2 separate regions of the Homo sapiens genome follow, and region 1 is linked to region 2. The links come from fine-mapping of genetic effects on gene expression. A gene starts in region 2. The other region holds a variant in brackets. All regions are shown on one strand. Distances are between the middles of the regions. Region 1 has its middle 24 kb from the start of FXYD5. Region 2 holds the start of FXYD1 (FXYD domain containing ion transport regulator 1).

The links.
Region 1: its variant is fine-mapped to the expression of FXYD1 in whole blood (TOPMed, PIP above 0.99).

The regions. Positions count from the first base shown.
Region 1 is chr19:35,173,914-35,184,385 of GRCh38, reverse strand. No RefSeq gene overlaps it. Among named protein-coding and RNA genes, the nearest start is that of FXYD5, 24 kb to the right of the region's middle. RefSeq lists a silencer at 8,379-8,535. The variant C/T (reference allele first, on the strand shown) is at 6,218.
Region 2 is chr19:35,134,038-35,144,509 of GRCh38, reverse strand. FXYD1 (FXYD domain containing ion transport regulator 1) reads right to left here and starts at 5,686. Exons shown (of 8, transcript NM_021902.4): 1 at 5,616-5,686; 2 at 4,370-4,434; 3 at 3,881-3,913; 4 at 3,304-3,378; 5 at 2,938-2,974; 6 at 1,989-2,038; 7 at 1,739-1,790; 8 at 1,401-1,593. The coding sequence starts at 4,430. The coding sequence ends at 1,768. It overlaps LGI4 (leucine rich repeat LGI family member 4), which reads left to right and starts at 9,451. Exons shown (of 9, transcript NM_139284.3): 1 at 9,451-9,999; 2 at 10,406-10,472. The coding sequence starts at 9,830. It overlaps FXYD7 (FXYD domain containing ion transport regulator 7), which reads right to left and starts at 1,255. Exons shown (of 6, transcript NM_022006.2): 1 at 1,146-1,255. The coding sequence starts at 1,176. RefSeq lists enhancers at 472-1,033, 1,034-1,594, 2,718-3,280 and silencers at 2,915-3,134, 3,245-3,374.

The DNA of each region.
Region 1 (10,472 bases), 40 kb before region 2:
AAATTCCCTCATGGTCTTCAACTTTTGACAGTTTGACCAGAATGTGCTACAGAGAGGACCTTTTTGGGTTGAATCTATTTGGGGACTTTTGAGCATCCTGAATCTGGATGTCCATACCTTTCCCGAGACTTTGGAAGTTCTCAGCTATTACTTTATTACATAGGATTTCTGTGTCTTTTCTCATCTCTTTTCCTTTTGGAAATTGGAATATCTGTTTGCTTAACAATGTCCCATAGGTCTTGTAGGCTTCCTTCATTCTTTTTTATTTTATTTTTTGTCTGATTGAGTTATTTCAAAAGAGACCTGTCTTCAAGTTTAGAAATTCTTTCTTCTGCTTGACCTAGTTTGTTGTTGAAGCTCTCAATTATATTTTAAATTTCATTTATTGGCCGGGATCGGTGGCTCACGCCTGTAATTCTAGCACTTTGGGAGGCTGAGGTGGGCAGATCACCAGGTCAGGAGTTCGAGACCAGCCTGGCCAACATGGCGAAACCCCGTCTCTACTAAAAATACAAAAATTAGCTGGGCATGGTGGCAGGGGCCTGTAATCCCAGCTACTCAGTAGGTTGGGGCAGAAGAATTGCTTGAACCTGGGAGGCAGAGGTTGCAGTGAGCCAAGATCATGCCATTGCACTCCAGCCTGGGTGACAAGAGCAAGACTCTGTTTCAAAAAAAAAAAAAAAAAAATCATTTATTAAGTCTTCAGCTCCAAAATTTATGTGTTTTTTTTTATGATATCCATCTCTTTACTGATTTTTTTTCATTCTGATCATGAACTGTTTTCCTGATTTTTTTGGGCGGGGGATGTTGTCTCACTCTGTTGCCCAGGCTGGAGTACGGTGGCACGACCTTGGCTCACTGCAACCTCCGCCTCCAGGGTTCAAACGATTCTTCTGCCTCAGCCTCCCAAGTAGCTGGGACTATAGGCATGCACCATCATGCCTGGCTAGTTTTTGTATTTTTAGTAGAGACATGGTTTTGCCATGTTGGCCAGGATGCTCTCAAATTCCTGACTTCAGGTGATCCACCCACCTCGGCCTCCCGAAGTGCTGGGATTACAGGCGTGAGCCACCGCGCCCAGCCCTGTTTTCCTGATTTTGTTGAATTGTCTATTTGTATTCTCTTGTATCCCATCAAATTTCCTTATGATCACTTGAATTCTTTTTTGGGAATTGCACAGATGTTCTTTTCTTTGGGGTCTATTATTGGAGGATTATTGTGTTCCTTTAGAGGTGTCATGTTTTCTTGCTTTTTCATGTTTCTTGTGTTCCTACACATCTGGTATAATAGCTACCTCTTCCAATTTGATGGAGTAACTTTCATAAGTAAAGACTTTTTCCTGTATATGTACCCTATAGTGTCGGTTGTGTAGGATGCTTTGGCTGTGGTTCTAGATAAACACAGTAGTATGATCTCCATGTGATTTCTTTGGCTGTAATTAATGTCAGCAGTGTCTGTGAATACTTCAGTGGCCTAATATTCAGGTGTTTAAGGAGGCAGTGGTGTGGCTTTGCTGGAGGAAGGAGCTGGGTGAACCCTAGGGAAGTGTGCACTGGGCATGGTGGCTCTGCTAGTTGTGAGGCAGCATTGCCATCACTGTTGGGCACCAGGCAGGCAAGTCCTTGGTCCCTGAGGGATTTGCACATTGGTTCCCCATGTTTTGGGGGCTGCCACCCTGCTGTGATAGATTGCCTGTTCCCTGGGGTGTGGGGCACTGTATGAGTTCAAATGCTGGGGTCATAGCTGTACTTCTGGATCTAACTGGTGTTGTGGCATTGCACCCTTTTGTGTAGACATGGTGGAATAACAGAAGGACCCCAGGGATGTGGAGATGCAGGAGCTATTGGCATCCAAGGCAGAATGCCCTCTAGCAGTGGGCTCTGTTCTCAAAATAGCCCTGTGTGGTAGCAGCCTGGGTCTTTGGGAGTGGGGCCTCAGTGTGAGTCCTTTCTCTGGGGCAGTGTAGCCATGTGGATTCTAGGCAGCTCCCTAGACTGGGCTTCAGGCCTGTGAGGACCGTGAGGCCCTCTTATAGCTAGGATTGCTGCAAGGACTGCAGGGCACCCCCCACTTACCTTTTACCTGCAATGGGGAGTCCTCTTGGCTCTGCACCAATACTGCTCAGGTGCTTTGCTTCCCTGTCTATGCTGCCATCACAATATTCTGGGGTTTTGTCACTTCTTTGCTGAATTCCAGTGTTTTCTCTTAGACACTCTACGCAGCTGAGTGTTGGGCACTTCTGGTCAGCCATCTTAATGACCTCCACTAGAGTTTCTGACCTACAAAGAAGAGCCACCACAGAGCTCTTCAAGGATGCTAGGACTCTCCTTCACAAATTTATTTCTGATAGCTAGGATGAAAGTCGTGTCCCCTTGGCACTGTCAATGTGTATAGATGAGCAAATCTTACATGATAAAGCCACTCCAGCATTCCAATCTCTCTGAGCCTTTGGCCACCTTTCACTACAGCAGGAATCGTCAAATGACAGTCCATGGGTCAAATCTAATTCCTGGGCTGTTTTCGTGTGGCCCACAAAATAGAATTGGTTTTTACATTTTTTTAGTTGAAATAAAATCAAAAGAAAAATAATATTTGTGACACATGAAAATGATACAAATTCAAATTTCAGTGTTTATAAATAAACTTATATTGGAGCACAGCCATGCTCAGTTACTTACAAATTGTCCTTGATGGCTTTATTGCTACAATGGGAGAGCTGAAGAGTGAAAAACTGAGACTGGCCTGTAAAACCTAAAACATTTACTCTATGGCTTTTTACAGAAAAAAAAATATGCTGATTCATGCTCTTTAGTACACCCAAGGAAATTCTGGCATTTTCAACCTATTATAGGCCCAGGTACGGGTCCATATATCAATCAGCCAACCAAGCAAACTGTCAGAACCATTCCTAGCCCCTCAAGCTCAAACATTACATCTCTGCTTGGTGGGCCAATGTAAATACATTTGACTTGATCCAACTATATTGTCTTCCACCTTGATTCCACACCCTTAAGATCCATTTCTGCACATATTCCCCAGTTCTCTGTTGATATAAATTGACAATTATTTGGGTGTGTGTTGCACCCCCTCATGGGTCACATTTTATACCTCACCTTTCACATTCTCTTGAGCCTTGAGTCTAGTCATAGGTCTTAGAAGTAAGAAGTGATAGGAATAGGTCCTGAGGAGCATAGATGCCTTGCCTTATGGAAGGCCATTACAATTTCTTCAGGGAAGAGGAGACTCACTTCTGCAGGCAAGAGTGAAAGGGCTGCCTCTGCAGGCAAAGAGATTTGGCAGAATTTAGGGGTCTTAAAGTCCTCAGCTTCACTGGAATCTGCTCATATGTCTCCATCCCAATTTTCAGGATCCCATTCCTCCCCAATCAAAGCCCTAACTTTAACAAAAAAGACCCTGTGAGGTTAGAAGTTCAACTTTTGTTGGATTAGACTTTAGCTTTGGTTTTCAGAAATCTCAGCCCTATGACTATGGGAAATACAAGTTTCTTTCAGGGCCACCACTCACAGAAGCTTTCAAGTCCCTTATACAGAACCAGAGCTGGGAAGGTAAAGTTCTGAGTGCCATCATTCCACCTCAGCTCCAAGTTTTCCAGCACAGTCAGCAGCAATGAGCCAACCCCATTACACTTCTTATTTTCACTAAACTGTTCTGTGGAAGCAAATACTCAGTCACCCAGAGCCTTTCCTTCTATAGAAACCTAATATAGGAAGCTACTGGTGATGGTCTGAGTGACTGCCTTGCCACTCCATGCTATGACCTATCAGTGTACCCTTCATTACTGAAAACAAGGTCATTAATGGCTTTCAATTTAATTAGAGAACCAATTCTAGAAAAACCAGATCTCGGCCGGGCGCGGTGGCTCACGCCTGTAATCCCAGCACTTTGGAAGGCCGAGGCAGGTGGATCACAAGGTCAAGAGATTGAGACCATCTTGGCTAATACGGTGAAACCCCGTCTCTACTAAAAGTACAATAAAATTAGCTGGGCGTTGTGGCAGGCGCCTGTAGTCCCAGCTGCTGGGGAGGCTGAGGCAGGAGAATGGCGTGAACCCGGGAGGCGGAACTTGCAGTAAACCAAGATCACGCCACCACACTCCAGCCTGGGTGACAGAGTGAGACTCCATCTCAAAAAAAAAAAAAAAAGAGAAAGAAAAACCAGATCTCATTGTTAAGATTCTGGCCTTCTGGAACCACTCTTAGTACCAAATTCTGTATCAGCAAAGCTGAACCTTTAATACATATGTGGGCGTACACACACACAGTTTGCTACACGAATTTGACCTTCAACAATTGTAGTTGCTAGTGAAGCTCTCTTTGTAGGGCTGTTGTCTTGATGCTGGAACTTGAAACCCACAGGTGCAGGAAGTCAGGAAGGGAAGATTGAGGTAAGATTGGGGAGAGCACGGAACAAGTTAGAACCCACAAGCACAAGCTGGAGTCCACAAGGATGGACTGAATCCTATGTTAATTCTTTTTCTTTTTCTTTTCTCTTCTTTTTTTTCTTTCTTTCTTTCTTTTTGTTTTTCTTTTTGAGACAGAGTTTCACTCGGTCGACCAGGCTGGAGTGCAGTGGTGTGATCTCTGCTCACTGCAACCTCTGCTTCCCAGGTTGAAGAGATTCTCTTGCCTCAGCCTCCCGAGTAGCTGGGATTGCAGGCATGCAACATCACGCCTGGGTAATTTTTGTATTTTTAGTAAAGATGGAGTTTCACCATGTTGACCAGGCTGGTCTCGAACTCCTGACCTCAAGTGATCCACCCGCCTCGGCCTCCCAGAGTGCTGGAATTACAGGCATGAGCCACTGCACCCAGCCCCATGCTAATTCTTGTTGTCTATGACCTTGGTGCTGTGGGTGTCTTGCTAGAGTCATGGTCCTTCATCACGGGGCTGAGCACACATGTCTGGCCCAACAACTGGGGAAGCTGAAGGAGGATCCAGCGGAAGGTGAAACAGTTGCAGCCCTGGTTGCTGCCTTATGCCAATGAGATGAGCTGTCTGATAAGTGACAACTGGTATAAGCTGCGAAATGTCCGTGGCTTCACCTCTACCCAGCAGATCCCTGACAAGAATGTCTCTTGTGGTTCACCCTAACCAGAAAACACAGGCATCTAGGGAAAAAGATTCTGGGAAGTGTAGTTTAACCTGGCCAAGGTGATACATTACAAAGCCACCTCAGGCGATGTTTCAAACCCTGTTTAACCTCCCACCATCAGCAGCTGGAGTCCTTGACTCAATAACTTCTTGAGAAGCCAACAGACTTTACCGAAGCAATCATTGGAGGTCATCCTCAACACCTCCAAGAAAAGCACAATCTAGTGTCAGATGAGAAAAGGCAGATTCCTTCCAGTTAATGTGATCTGGCCTCAATTTCAAAACAAGAACCTTGACAGAATTGTACTCAGGAGGCTAGCTGAATTACAACATCCACTCCATTAGCTCCTGGCAAGATATCTCCCCTGATGTAAGGGTGGAGGAGGAGGAGGCTTCACTTCAGACCATGATGCCACAGAAAAAGATGTCTTTTGCCAGAAAGGGATTGGGTAGCATTGGAGAGCATTGGAGGCGCTGTTGAAGTGATGTCTGGAAGTCTCTATCAAGTCTGAGAATCAGTGCTGCTGTCCTCTGGAAGTTTCAAAAACGACCAGTTTTTTTTTTTTTTTTGAGATGACGTCTCACTCTTGTCACCCAGGCTGGAGTGCAATGGTGCAATCTTGGCTCACTGCAACCTCCGCCTCCTAGGTTCAAGTGATTCTCTTGCCTCAGCCTCCCGAGTAGCTGGGATTACAGGCATGTGTCACATGCCTGGCTAATTTTTGTATTTTTAGTAGAGATGGGATTTCACCCTGTTGGCCAGGCTGGTTTCGAACTCCTGACCTCAGGTGATCCACCTGCCTTGGCCTCCCAAAGTGTTGAGATTACAGGTGTGAGCCACTGTGCCTGGCCAACCCCCAGTCTTAACAGTTATCTTTTCCTTTTACATTGGAGTAAAAATGACTTGAGGCTCCATCTCCTGACTTGGTGGCAGCTCCCCATCCTTCTCAGCATCCTAATCAACAAATTCCTGAGGGCAATTATTTTCCTTGATGGTATTTGGGGTGTCACGGACTCAGCTAAAAGACCACATTTCTGTGTCCTTTGCAATTAGAGGTAGCAATCCGAAGGAAGTAGAAATCTTTGGGAGGGAGTCTTGGGAAGTC[C/T]CTTTAAAAGGAGCTGAATCACCTAGTGGTGCCTTTCCTTTCTCACTTTTTTTTCCCCTTCTTGATTTTTTTCCTGGAATGTGGCATGATGGCTGAGGCTTCTGCAGCTATTTTGTGATCTTGAGGCTTCAGGCCACATGCTTAGGGTGGCAGAGCAGCAAGTCTGGTCCCTTATGATATTAGGGATCCTCTTTCCCAGCCTTGCACTATGTACTTCAGAGTTCTGCTATGTGAGAGAGGAATAAATAACCTGTTTAAGTCGTTGTTTCTGGCTGTCTCCTGAAGCTGAATACAGTTTCTGCCTCTAGAACTCTTGCTATGTGAGATAATAAATGTCCTTTGCAGTAAACAATATTACTGCCCATCAATACCCAGTTCCCTTCTGATGTGGTTTGGCTGTGCCCCCACCCAAATCTTATCTTGAATTTTCACATATTGTGGGAGGGGCCCAGTGGAAGGTGGTTGAATCATAAGGGCAGGTCTTTCTCTTGCTGGTCTTGTGATGGTGAATGAGTCTCATGAGGTCTGAGGGTTTTAAAAAGGGGAGTTTCCCTGCACAAGCTCTCTTCTCTTGTCTGCCACCATGTGAGACGTGCCTTTCACCTTCTGCCATGATTGAGGCCTCCCCAGCCACGTGGAACTGTAAATCCAATAAAGTTCTTTCTTTTGTAAGTTTCCCAATCTCAGATATGTCTTTATCAGCAGCATGAAAACGGATTAATATACCTTCCTATAAGAAGATTGTAATGTTCTGTGCTGTTGAACTCAAATGTGCCCGTGTGATTTGCTTTCGATAATGACAATGTGAGCAGAAATGAGGTGTGTCCCTTCCTGACAGAGGCTATAAGAGCCAGTGTGTGTCTCACCTTGTTCCTTGTTCTGCCTTCTGCCTGCTATGATAACCAGAAACATTTCTTTTCTTTTATTTTCTTTTCTTTTAGACAGGGTCTCACTCTGGAGTGCAGTGGCGTGATCTCAGCTCACTGCAACCTCCATCTCTTGGGCTCAAGCGATCCCCCCACCTCACCCCTCAAATAGCTGGGACCACAGGCGCAAGCCACCATGCCCAGCTTATTTTTATTTAGTTTTTGAGACGGAGTGTCACTCTGTCACTCTGTCACCCAGGCTGGAGTGCAGTGGCTTGATCTCGGCTCACTGCAACCTCCGCCTCTCAGGTTCAAGTGATTCTCCTGCCTCAGCCTCCTGAGTAGCTGGGATTACAGGCATGCACCGCCATGCCTGGCTAATCTTTCTATTTTTAGTAGAGATGGGGTTTTGACATGTTGGCCAGGCTGGTCTCAAACTCCTGACCTCAGGTAATCCGCCTGCCTCGGCCTCCCAAAGTGCTGGGATTACAGGTGTAAGCCACTGCACTTGGCCTAATTTTTGTATTTTTTGTAGAGACAAGGTTTCACCATATTGGCCAGGTTGGTCTCAAACTCCTGAGATCAAGCGATCTGCCTGCCTCGGCCTCCCAAAGTGCTGGGATTACAGGTGTGAGCCACTGCGCCCAGCCCAGGCTTCCCCATCATCTTGGGTCCCATCCTAGCTCCTAGCTGAACCGTGAGGGACATGTAGTGAGAGCGAGAAACAAACCTTTGTTGTAAGCCACGAGATTTTGAGATTATTTGTGACTGTCAATTTTAAGCAAAATTGGTCTGGCTTGGCATAAGGAATTAGAGGTTGACAAGCTCTTTGGAAAGGCTGGTGGAGTGCGCTCTAAGTGAAGACTGCAAATGATTCCACAACATGAGCAGACTGACTTGCCCAAGGAGCTTCTCCCTCCACCCTAATCAGGAGCCCCCATTGTACACGTCAGCTTCAGCATCTGGCTGCTCTGTCTGAGATCCAGGGATCAGAAAATCATCACCACCCAGGACAGAACTGCCTATTTGTTTTCAATGTTCTTGTTTTGTATTGAGTTATAATTTACTGTGTTAGTTCATTTTGCATTGCCATAAAAGAATACTTGAGACAGTAATTTATAAGGAAAAGAGAATTCTTTGGCTCATGGTTCTTCAGGCTGTACAAGCACAGCACCAGCATCTGCTTGGCTTTTGGTGAAGAGACCTCAGGAATCTTTTACTCATAGCAGGAAGTGAAGGGATAGCAGGCGTGTCCCATGGCAAGAGCAGGAGTAAGACAGAGAGAGGGGGAGGTGCCAGGCTCTTTAAGCAACCAGCTGTCACGTGAGCTAAGAGGGCAAGAACTCACGCATGACCATGGGGAGGACACCAAGCCATTCATGAGGGATCAACCCCCATGACCCAATCACCTCCCACCAGGCCCCCCTCCATCATCGGGGATCACATTTCAACATGAGATTTGGAGGGGTCACACATCCAAATATCACTTACACATAGTAAAGTGTACAAATCTTTTTTTTTTTTTTCCTTTGAGACAGGGTCTTGCTCCATCACCCAGGCTGGAGTCCAGTGGCGCGATCTCGGCTCACTGCAACCTCCGCCTCCCACGTTCAGGCGACTCTCCTGCTTCAGCCTTCTGAGGAGCTGGGATTACAGGCATGCACCACCATGCCTGGCTAATTTTTGTATTTTTAGTAGAGACGGGGTTTCACCATGTTGGCCAGGCTGGTCTCGAACTCCAACCTCAAGTGATCCACCTGCCTTGGCCTCTCAAAGTGTTGTGATTACAGGCATGAGCCACGGCACCGAGCCCTCAAAACTTAAACGTACAATTTGATCATTCTGATCAATATATGGACATGTAATCTGCACCACTGTCATCAGGGCACAGAACATTTCAATCCTTCCAGAAAGTTCTTTCATGCCCCTTTGCAGTCTCTCCCCACCTCCTGCTGACATAGTAGAGGCCACTACTCTTCTGATTTTTATCACTGTTAATCAGTTTTGCATATTTCAGAACTTCATATAAATGGAATTACACAGTCTGTGCTCTTTCGTGTGTGGTTTCTTTCACTCAAGACAATGCTTTTGAGATTCATTCATGTGTTGTGTAGCTCAGTCTTTCTTCCTTCCACAGTTTGTAGTCCACTCACTTGTGCTGATGGACATTGGGGTTGTTTCTAGTCTTTTTACTATTACAGATATTGCTGTAAACATTTGTGTGTGGGTCTTTGTGTGGACATGTGGTTTGACTTCTCTTGGATAAATACTTAAGAGTTGAATAGCTGGGTCATAGGTTAAGTGCACATTTACCTTTTTAAGAAACTGCCAATTTTCTTTTCTTTTCTTTTTTTTTTTTTTGAGACCGAGTCTCGTTCTGTTGCCTAGGCTGGAGTACAGTGGTCTGATCTCGGCTCACTGCAACCTCTGTCTCCTGGGTTCAAGTGATTTTCCTGCCTCAGCCCCCCGGGTAGCTGGGATTACAAGCACCCACCACCACATCCAGCTAATTTTTGTATTTTTAGTAGAGACGGGGCTTCACCATGTTGGCCAGGCTGGTCTCGAACTCCTGACCTCAGATGGTCTTCAGCCTCCCAAAGTGCTGGGATTACAGGTGTGAGCCACCGTGGCCAGCCTAGAAACTGCCAGTTTTCTAAAGTGATTGTATCCCTTTCTGGTCCAGCTACGAATGGAAATTCCACTTGTTCCACATCCTCTTCCCACTTGGAAGTGTCTGTCTTTTTAATTTTAGCCATCCTAGTGGGTGTGTGGTGGTATCTCATTGTGATTTTCATTTATTTTTACTGATGACTGTTGATATTGAACATCTTTTCATGTGCTTATTGGCCATTTAGATTTCCCTTTCCCTTCCTTCCTTCCTTCGTTCCTTCCTTCGTTCCTTCCTTCCTTCCTTCCTTTCTTCTTTCTCTCTTTCTCTCTCTCTCTTTCTTTCTTTCAAAATGGAGTCTCTCTCTGTTGCCCAGGCTGGAGTACAATGGCGCAATCTCTGCTCACTGAAACCTCCGCCTCCCAGGCTCAAGCGATTCTCCTGCCTCAGCCTCCTGAGCAGCTGGGACTACACCACGCCTGGCTAATTTTTGTATTTTAGCAGAGATAGAGTTTTGCCATGTTGGCCTGGCTGGTCTCAAACTCCTGACCTCAGGTGATCCGCCTGCCTTGGCCTGCCAAAGTACTGAGAATACAAGCATAAGCCACCACGCCTGGCCAATTTAGATATTCTTTTATGAGCATAACTGCCTTTTAGTACCTACGAGGCTAGTGACTGGACACTGGAATGGTACAGCCAAAAAAACTCAACACTTTCACCATCCTATGAGCTCACAGCAAACAGCAAATGGCACAGAAAGATGGTCTCTTTTGGTCTTCCA
Region 2 (10,472 bases):
CCCTGCCCTCAGTGCTGGAGACCCTTGCTGGGCACTGGCTCCCTCTTGAAGCAGTCTGTGCCTTGCTCATCTGCAGAAGCAGGATTAGCAGTGGGGGCTATTAGGGGGCGACGGTAGAAGTGGGTGTTTAAGTGGGTGCATAACTGGGTTAATTGGTGTGGAATGGAAATCAGTGTGTGGCTGGATGGGGGCAGTAGGGGCAGCTAGGTGTATACCCAACAGCACCTCTGGGATTGGAAAACACCCCTGCTGTGGGCTGGAAGGAGGGTCCCATCGCCCCATTCCCACACATAGGGTCTCACTGCAGTGGTTTGGGCCCCACCCCACATGGCTCCCTTCTTCTCTTTCTACTCCCCTCTCTCCCCATGGGTCCGTCTCTCTCCCTCCGTCTCTCTGCTTCTCTCTCCATAGCGGTCTCAATCCCACTATCTCCCAGGCTCTCATTTTTTTTTCTCTCTCTCTCTGCATCTCTGTCTACTGCTCTCAGCCTCTCCCCTCCACTGGGAATCTCTCTGAGTCCATCTATTTGTCTTCCTGGGTCTTTGTATCTGTGACTCTGGATCTCCTGCCTCTCTTGGTCTCTGTCTCTTCCAGGTTCTCCCTGTCTGTCTCTTGCTATATCCCTTCTCTCTGTCTCTTCCTTCAGCTCTCACTCCTTTCCTCTGAACCTGGCTGTCAAGGGTTTCAGGAAACAGACACCCTAGGAGACAGCACTGGAAAGAAGAGGGACATGAACCTCCTCCCCTTCCCTTGCCCACCCCAGGGACCCTGAAATCTTCCAGAACGTCTCTGGTCGCAGACCCACCCGCTCCCACCCTGCAAGCTCATCTCTTCCCCGTCTGCTACCACCACGGTGCGGGACCAGCCACCCGGTTGCCATAGCGACCTGTCCGAGCATCCCTTCTCCCGGGACTGCCACTCTCCAACCGCAGGTCTGGCACAGGACGCCTGCCGGGGAGGGGGTGTCCCAGAGACCCGGAGGGGCGATCGGGGGGGCGCATTACAGGGGCTTCCGCCCACAGGAGGAGCGGACCTCCCTCCCCCAACTCCCTTGCCTTACCATTGCTTGAATCTCCCGACACCCTCTCTCCTAGGCTCTCAGATCCCGGAGCCCCCCTGCAACCCCCTCCCCAAACGACGCTCACCCTTTGTGGGGGTCTGGGTCGGGGTCGCCATGCTGGGCCGGAGCAGGGGGCTGCTGGATGCTTTGGCGGCGAAGGCGCGCTGCAGCAGCTGGAAGCAGGACGGACCGATGTGGGGGGGAGCTGGGGGGAGCCCTGGCGTGGGGGGGCCTGCAGCCAATGGGGGCCCGGGGAGCCCGCCCCCGTGCAGGCCACCCCCGCCCCCGCCCCCGCCCACCACCGTCGTCCCCGCCCCTTCCTCTAGGGTGGGGCGCCCCCTGCTGGGGCCCAGTGGCGCTGGCGTTTCGCGCTGAGGGACCGAGACCGACAAAGTGCTGTCGAGAGGAACGCACGTTTTATTGGAAGTCTTGGCGGCAGGGGGAGTCTGCGGGGGCAGGGCTGGGGAAGGGGCGGCGGAGGGGGCGGTGGGCGCGCAGGTGGAGCGTGGGAGATGTCAGGTGCCAGGGGAGTCCTGTGAGGGTGAAAAGGGTGAGAGGCGAGGGGGGACGTCCAGCCCCACCCCTCGCCGCCCTTCAACTCTGGCACTTGGCCCCCTCCCTCTCCCGCCTTTCCTTCCTCCCTCCTTCCCTCCCACCGCCGTGTCAGAGCTGCAGCACCTGGCCGGATTCCATCGCTCCAGGTGTTTCTACCGCCTGCGGGTGGACAGACCTGGGGGGAACACGGAGATCGGGGGTCATTCTGGAGAGGCATCCCCAGCTCCTGGGCAGGTGGGGCCCGCGGCGGGGCAACTCCCCGCCCTCCGCTTTCAGATCCAGCCCTTCCCTCTACGCAGCCAGGGAGGGCCGGGAAAAGCGGTCCTTGGAACCAGCCCTCTCCCCAGAATACCCGCAGTCTCCCCAGACTCACGGCGGATGGAGCTGCGGAAAGTTCCCTCCTCTTCATCGGGTTCCCCAGTCCTGGGAAGACAGAGGCAGAGGGATTTCGGGATGGAAAGGGGGAGAGGCTGCCCTTCTAGGAACCCCCCAGTACAAGCCTCCTTTCCCAGATTGGTGTAACTAGGCCCAGATATGGACGAAGAGCAGGCTCGGGGTCCGCCAGAAATGAGGAGCACCCAGGAGCAGCTTATGTGCTGGCAGGGGGCTTCTAAGCTGGTTAACAGTGAGTACCTCCGCGGATTTGGGGGCAGGGATGTGAAGTTGGTGGGGGAGGGATAGTCATGGGGACTTGGCAGACTGCCATGAGATGGCCTGGGTTGGAAACCCAGAACCCCCCATCTTCCACTTGAGTGATCTTGAACAAAGTGACTTTACCTCCCTGTGCCTTAGTTTCCTCATCTGTCAAATGGGGTTAATAACAGCACCTCCCTCCCAGAGGAAGTGAAACCGTATCTAACACGTGGTACACACCCAGTAAATATTAGCTACTACTTATGATAATATCTATAATTGTTCTAACATATTCATACATTGTCCATGCTTTAACATTTTATTCGAAGAGGAATCAAAGAGCTAGGAACAAGACTCTAAGCTAAACTGGGCCGCGTGTGAGATGATCTCATTTCACCGCCGTTTCTTCTTTCCTGCACTTTGTGTTATCACGCTTTGTGATTTTTCTATCTGTGGGGCTGTTGGAACCCACGGCCACCGCCTCCACTAGGCTGGGAGCTCGGCCAGGAAGGGCGGGAGGTTTTTTCCTCGCTTGGTCCCAGGGCCAGGCTTGGGCCATGGCACATAGTAGGTGCTTAATACATAGTCGCTGACGGGGATCGGGCTGCGGGTCAGGGGTACTCCCCGCCTCACCCGCGGCGCCCTCCAGAGCAGGAGCGGGCGAAGGAGGGCGGGGAGGGGCGTCTTACCTCTGCTGCTGGTTGAACTTGCACCGGCATCTTCTGCCTGTGGGCGTGGAGAGGTAGGAGAAGCTGAGGCTCCCTCCCGGCGGGCGCCAAGCGGCGCTGTAGCTCCAGCTCGCCCTCGCGAGGGGCGGGGCTTGGGGGACGGGGCGGGGCTAGAGGCGAGACCGGGGGCCGGGGAACCAAGGCAGGGTAGGCGGGGCAAGGCCTGGGAGGGGTTGGGGCGGGGCGGGGCCAGGGAGGGGCGGGACCAGGGAGAAGCGGGGCCAGGGAGAGGGGGGCTAGGGAGAGGCGGGGCCAGGGAGAGGCGGGGCCAGAGAGAGGTGGGGCCAGGGAGAGGCGGGGTAGAGGGCGGGAGCTAGGGGCACTCACTCAGCACGATGAGGATGCCCAGGATGAAGAGGATCCCGGCGATGACGAGGCCTCCGATCTGCAGGGACTGGTAGTCTGTGAGCAGCAGAGCAGGGAAGGTGAGGGCAGGGAAGACAGGAGGGAGAATAGGAGAGGGGTAAATTGGGAAGGAGGGAACAGGGAGAAAGGACCAGCAGGCAGAAGGGGGGAAGTAAGATAATTAAGGGGGAGCAGATATGGGAGGAGGAAAGTGGGGTACCAGGGAGAGGAAAGGGGTGTATAGGAAAGGGAGGGAGGGGACAGGGAGGAGGAGGACAGGGGGGAGAGAAGACGGGAAGAAGCAGAGGATGGGCCACGAGATGCTGAGACAGACGCAGGCAAGAGAAAGAGAACCAGAGAGGTATCACATAGACAGTGACACAGATAGACACAGACAGGAAAAGATGCAGACAGGTGGAATCAGAGAGGAAGGACAAAATAGAGGGAAGGAGAATGACAGAGATATCAATACTGGGACTCTGGGGGAGGGCGAGGGGGAATCAAAGGACCAGCAAAGCCAGGCTCTCCCCCAGGACTCAAAATTAGACCCCCCGCTCACCGTAAGTGAACGGGTCGTGTTCCTTTGGACTTTCTGGAAAGAGAGAGAAATCAGGGGTTGAATGCTTCCTGGGGTCCTGGCAGGGAGGGGCATGAGGAGACCACTGGAGGCTCTGCCTTGCTGGGCTTAGAGTCTGAGGGTGTCTGGGCAGGCTGCCCACACTCTCTGGGTCCCAGCTGCCCCCTCTGCACTGTCCCAGATGGGGCAGGTGGCACCTAACTGCCCCAGCTCCCTGACTCACGGCAGGCTGTCTGTGACCCAGTTATCCCATCGGGGATTCAGCCCCATCCCACCCCATCTTTGCCTGATCTGGGGCTTCCTCTCCCCTCCCCCAAATACCAGCCTGTGACTGGACCCCACGTGGAGACCCCCAAACTTCTTGGTACCCCAGCCGACTTAGTCTAGGTTGGGGTCTCCAACTTGGTTCTTCGGTCCCCACCGCCACCCCTGGGGCTGAGGTGGGTAGCGGGCAGCCTCCCCTGCACTCACCTGCCTTGGCCATGGTGAGGAGACCCACACAGAAAACCAAGATGTGGCCAAGAGACGCCATTGTCCTGGGGGGGACACCACGGATTAGGCAGTGTGTGCCCTTGCTCTCCCACATAGGGCTTGAACCCAAGGGATTAAGTCAGAGACAGTCTGGGGACTGAATCACAGAAGTGTTTGTCCTCTATCTTGGTGGCTCCAAGCTAGAGAAACGGGTATCCCCAGCTTCGTGGGGACACAGTGTCACCAAAACAACCTCCACGATGGGATCACACAACAACACAACGTAGCAGGGACGGGGGTGAGACACACAGTCCCCGGGGGGCCTCCCTTGGGCCTCCACCTCCCGCAGCAGGCCCCCGATTCCCAGACCTACCCTGGCAGGGCAGAGGAGGCGCTGCCTCACACAAACACAGAGCAGGAGACAGCAGGGCACGCCCAAGTCCCACCTGCCTACATGCCCGGCCTCACTGTGCCCCGCGAAATCCCAGCTCCCTGCCCTCTCCGCCCGCCCGCTCGCGGCCTGACCCCGGGTATAAATATCTCCCACTTCACCCTGGAGGAATTCTGCTCGCTCAGGCCACCATGGCAACAGCCTGCCTTCCCCCACTCAGGGGGTCACGCACAGCCCTGCCGGGGTGAGGCCCAGCTGCCACATCGCCACAGGCTGCCCCTGTGGGAAAGGTCACCCCGTCTCCTCCCTGGGCAGCAACGAGAAAAGGAAAAGACAGCCCCTCTGCCCGCCTCTGGGTGACATCTTTCACAATCGGATGTCAGGCAAGTGACATGAGGCCCAGCCCAGTGGGCCTTAGAGATAGAAAACACATGCTGGGGCAGGGATACACACACACACACACACACACACACACACACACACACACAGTGGGGCCGGAATGGACATGAACAACAACCTCTCCCCAAACTGCTGGTTGGAGCAGGACGTGGGGTGTAAACACCGTCAGGCATCCAATACTCCTCCTCTGGGCCTCCGGTGCCCCCACGCAGTGACGCAACCAGCCCTACACACGTGTGTGTCCCAACTCCACACCCTGCCAGGGTGCACACGCACCAGCAGGGCAGGGAGGAGTCACCCACATCCCACCCTGCAGAACCCACTGCCTCAACCACACTCCCTCCCTCTTGGGTTGGCCTGCCTGGGAAGCCTCGGGCTGGCCACTCCTGCTCCCAAAATAGGCGGCCCAGCCAGACCAGGGGTGAGGCCTGGAGGGAAGGAGTGGGGGACGCTCACCCCAATCGGGCTGTCCCCTGCTGAAAGAAGGCCCCCAAACGTCCTGCTGTGCCCCGGGGGCTGAGCACTTTGGACCCCCTGGCCCAGAGCTGGACGCGCCGCCCCCAGCAGCCTCCCCTCCCAGCCCCACCCCACCCATGCCCTCCCCAACCAGCAGCTGAAACTGGAGCTGGGGCTGGAGGGGGGCCAGGGGGCGGCCCCCAGCCCAGACTGCCCTGGCCCGCTTGGTTAACTCTCTCAGTTCAGAGAGAGCAGCAGCAGGCAGCCAGCAGGCAGGCTGGAGAGGCTAGGAGGATTGTGGAGGACAGGGTTGTGAACACACACACACACAAACACACACGCCTCCAAGAGCTTTTGGGCTGAGGCGGCTGCCCCCTGGGAACTGGGTCCAGCCAGGGCCGAAGGTCACCCAGCCTGACTGCCCAGGAGCCCACTGACCCCCGATCCCAGTGCTCCGTGAGGTCCTTAACAGGGCTGTTTTAGAGGACGGGAGGGAGGTGTGTGTGTGTGTGTGTGTGTGCGCGCGCATGTGCGCTATCTGCTGTGGTGAGATCCCCAGAAATGCACCACACACACACACCCACACACAATCCCAAAGACCCAGATATACAGGTACAAAACCAGACAAAACCATGTATGTATGTACATCCATAGAAGCAGACACACACAGAATGACACACTGATAGAGAAACCCAAAGACCCGGACACACAGCCAACACCTTTTATGCCAGTCACAAAATACCAGAACAAGCACATTTATGTCTACACAGACCCACGCACGCTCATGTAGATGGATGGCCACACAGAGATACAGTCAAAGACATAGCCACATCACCATCTACACTCACAAACTGGCCACAAAAATGCATGTTTATGTGAAGACCCACCCACAAATGGCCATACAGAAACACACAAGTATGTGCACACCGCACATAAATGCATTCTAAGATGCATGGCCAAACATGGCCAGGTACGGTGGCTCACACCTGTACTCCCAGCACTTTGGGAGGCCAAGGCGGGAGGATCACTTGAGGCCAGGAGTTCAACACCAGCCTGGCCAACCCGACGAGAGCTCGTCTCTACTAAAAAAATATACAAAAATTAGCTGGGTGTGGTGGCGTGCGCCTGTAATCACGGCTACTCCGGAGGCTGAGGCAGGAGAGTCACTTGAGCCCGGGAGGCAGAGCTTGCAGTGAGCTGAGATCATGCCACTGCACTCTAGCCTGGGCAACAGAGCGAGACTCTGTCTCAAAAACAAAAACAAAACAAAAAAACCCCAAAGGTACAGACATGCAGCCAGCACTCCTACATGGTCCCAAAGATAGGAAGGCCAACAAGCTTGTGTACACACAGACAGATTTCCATGGGCACAGATACACAAGCAGAAACACCATCAAGGACAACCCGCCGCTCTCACACATACCCACAAAAGCAGAAACACACACACTGGTTCACACCCTATGCTTGAGCAAACAGGCACATGGTTGGCCACGGTGACAGATGCGCAGGCTGACACACTTGCATGTTCACACATTCCAAAACCACAGATATGTATTTAACCCCACACTTTCCTTCCCCTGAGCTCTTGTCGGGGACAACACACCTGGCGTCCCCATGGGCAGGCCAGGTTTACAGGTCCTGGTGACAGGGAAACCTGGAATGGCCCAGGCACTGCACTCCTGGTTGTGTGAACTTGAGCAGCTCTGTGCCTCATTTTCACATGCTCCAAAATGGAAAAATCACTAAGATCACGTGTATAATCCTGGACAGGGCTCAGAGGTCTCTGAACTTGACATTGTCTTATGATTAACTTCATTTTTTGTTTGTTTGTTTGAGACCGGGTCTTGCTCTGTCACCCAGGCTGAAGTGCAATGGCACAATCATAGCTCACTGTAGCCTCAACCTCATGGGCTCAAGTGATTCTCCCACCTCAGCTTCCTGAGTAGCTGGGACTATGGGCGTGCGACACCATGCCTGGCTAATTTTTTAATTTTTTGTACAGTCGGGGTTTCTCTATGTTGCCCAGGCTTGTCTTGAACTCCTGGCCCCAAGCGATCCTCCCACTTCAGCCTGCCAAAATGTGGGATTACAGAAATGAGCCACCGTGCCTGGCCTATTATTATTGTCCTTGTCATCCTCCTCCTTGTGAACTGGACTGCTGGGCTGGGCACCCTATGAGAGTGGGTTCAGATCCCTCTGTGCCCCTGGCACTCAGCTCTCCAACTTCACTTTCAGGGACCCTGTTTATCATACCCAATAGTCAGTGAAGGAAACTGAGAGCTGACGGGCATGGCTCAAACCACAAGCTGCTGGGGTCTGCTCCTCTAGGAGCTGGATCCGGAGCCCACCCCCAAGCTTGCCGACCACTGTGGGATGCCCACCTTGTGCTGAACCCCAAAAGGATGAGTTGCCTCCATCACCTGAGTCCTCTCCACAACTGGGAAGCGGGTGCCACGATTGTCCCCGTTTGACAGATGGGAAAACTGAGGCCACACAGGACTGGGCCTGGAACCCAGATCTGCATGACCTCCAAGCTGTTAAGCCCCCTTATCCTCCAACGAGGCTTCTGGGCGTGGGCGTCAGTGTCAAGAGAGGCTGCATGCATTCCTCAATCACAGGATGAGTCTCGTCCCCAGGCGATGAGGTGGTACAGCCTAGGGGTTAGGTTTAGAGCTGACTAGAGCCAGGAAACTAATCACATAACTTCCCTGTGCCTCAGTTTCCCCATCTGTAAAGCAGGGATAGCAGTACTGCCCATCTCACAGGGTGGCTGTGAAGGCTGAGTGAGTATAAACATTACTACTATTTCATCTTAGCTAACAAGTGTCATTTACTTATGTTTCTTATTTAGTGGACAGAATCTATCCAAATGACTAAAATTTAGTCCAGATTAAAACAACCAATTATCCATCTATCCATGAACTCTGATCTCCAAAGAAAGAATGCAAAATAACCTGGAGCCGGATGCCTGGGTTTGAATCCCGGCTGTGCCCTCAGCTGGGTAACCTAGAGTTCAGGTTCCCTGACCTCTGTCTCCACTTCCTCCAGCTGTAAAGTGGTGATGATGACAGCACTAACTTCAGAGGGCTTTGGCAAGATCAGAATGAGTTAATAGATGAGCTTTTAGGACAAGGCCAGGCTCAGAGTAGACGCTGAAGAAGGGGTGGCATCATCATCATCATCTTCACCATCATCATCATCTTCATCATCATCATGTCCTCGGGTTGGTGCTGTCCCCCAGTGGGTGTTGGCCACTAGAGGGTTAATTTCAGGGTAGGGGAGGGAGGCTAAGGGCTTGGGGCCGGGCAGAGGTCCTGCCGAGTATGACCACCAGAGGGAGCAGCTGGACGTGATCTGGCCCCACTGACAGCGCCCAACACACCCTCCTGTAGCCAGGGGAGGGGGCTGGCAGAGAGTGGCCAGGACGGGATGTCCCCAGCCCCCCCAGGGCCTCTCCTCCCACCCTGCTCCAGAATGCAGAGCCATCTGGTCCCCACCCTGGTGACATCGTCCTCCTGCTCCCCCAATAGGGTTGAGTGGGGAATCTGGGGAGGGGGCTGGCGGGAGTGGTGGGGCGGCTCCAGCCCTTGGTGGCCCCTCCCCCTCCTGTGGGGCTGTCCAGTCCCTTCCCCCAAGGCCGACCTTCTCATGGCCTCTGACCCCCTCCTCCTTCCCATCCTACTCTGCCGGGTGTGCCGGGTGTCCAGCGAACCCCTTTCCCAAACCTTCGGGGAGAAGGGAGGTGGGAGGAGGCAAAGAAACTACAGGCAGGGAGCTGGAAGGGGGGGTGGGGGGGGCAGGAGACAAGAAATCAAGACACCAGGCAGCAGGACACACACACACTCACATACACTCACACACATAGAGACCAACAGATAGACAGCTACCTAAAGCCTGAAAGACTGACAGCAACACAGAAAAAAAGAAACAGGCAGAAAGAGAGACAAAGACAGAAATAGAAACAGACTAACACACAGAGTCAAAAATACAGAGACAGAAAGACAGGGAGAAAGAGAAACAGAAAATTAGACACCAAAGACATACGAACAGGGAGGAAGGCCGACTGAAAGAAAGACGGAGAAGAGGAGAGAGAAGCCAGGGCCGAGCGTGCCAGCAGGCGGATGGAGGGCGGCCTGGTGGAGGAGGAGACGTAGTGGCCTGGGCTGAGCTGGGTGGGCCGGGAGAAGCGGGTGCCTCAGAGTGGGGGTGGGGGCATGGGAGGGGCAGGCATTCTGCTGCTGCTGCTGGCTGGGGCGGGGGTGGTGGTGGCCTGGAGACCCCCAAAGGGAAAGTGTCCCCTGCGCTGCTCCTGCTCTAAAGACAGCGCCCTGTGTGAGGGCTCCCCGGACCTGCCCGTCAGCTTCTCTCCGACCCTGCTGTCACTGTGAGTGTCCAGCCTTCTGCATGCCCGAAGGTGGGGACGGAAGTCCTGGGACCCCAGAGGTTGGGATGTGGTGCCGGGTCTCCAGGGAAACAGGGGCCCATCAGGATCTCAGGAGATGGGCAGCAAAGCCTGTCGGGATGCCTTGAAGAGGGGTGCTGGCATCTGGGAAGGAGCAGAAGGAAACCCCAGAGGGCAGGGACAGCATTTGGGGCCCAGGAGGAGGGTTGAGTGCTGTCAGGGTCCTTGTCAAGCCAGGAGGGCAAATGCCTGCCTCCTCTGGCATGCAGGGGAGACACATCCAGGGTCAGGGTGGCACGCTGGGGTCTCCCGGATGGCAGAAGGTTCTGGTTTGCAACTGGAGTATTGCTGTGGTGTCCCTCTCACCTACCACTGCCCACATCCCCAGCTCACTCGTCAGGACGGGAGTCACCCAGCTGAAGGCCGGCAGCTTCCTGAGAATTCCGTCTCTGCAC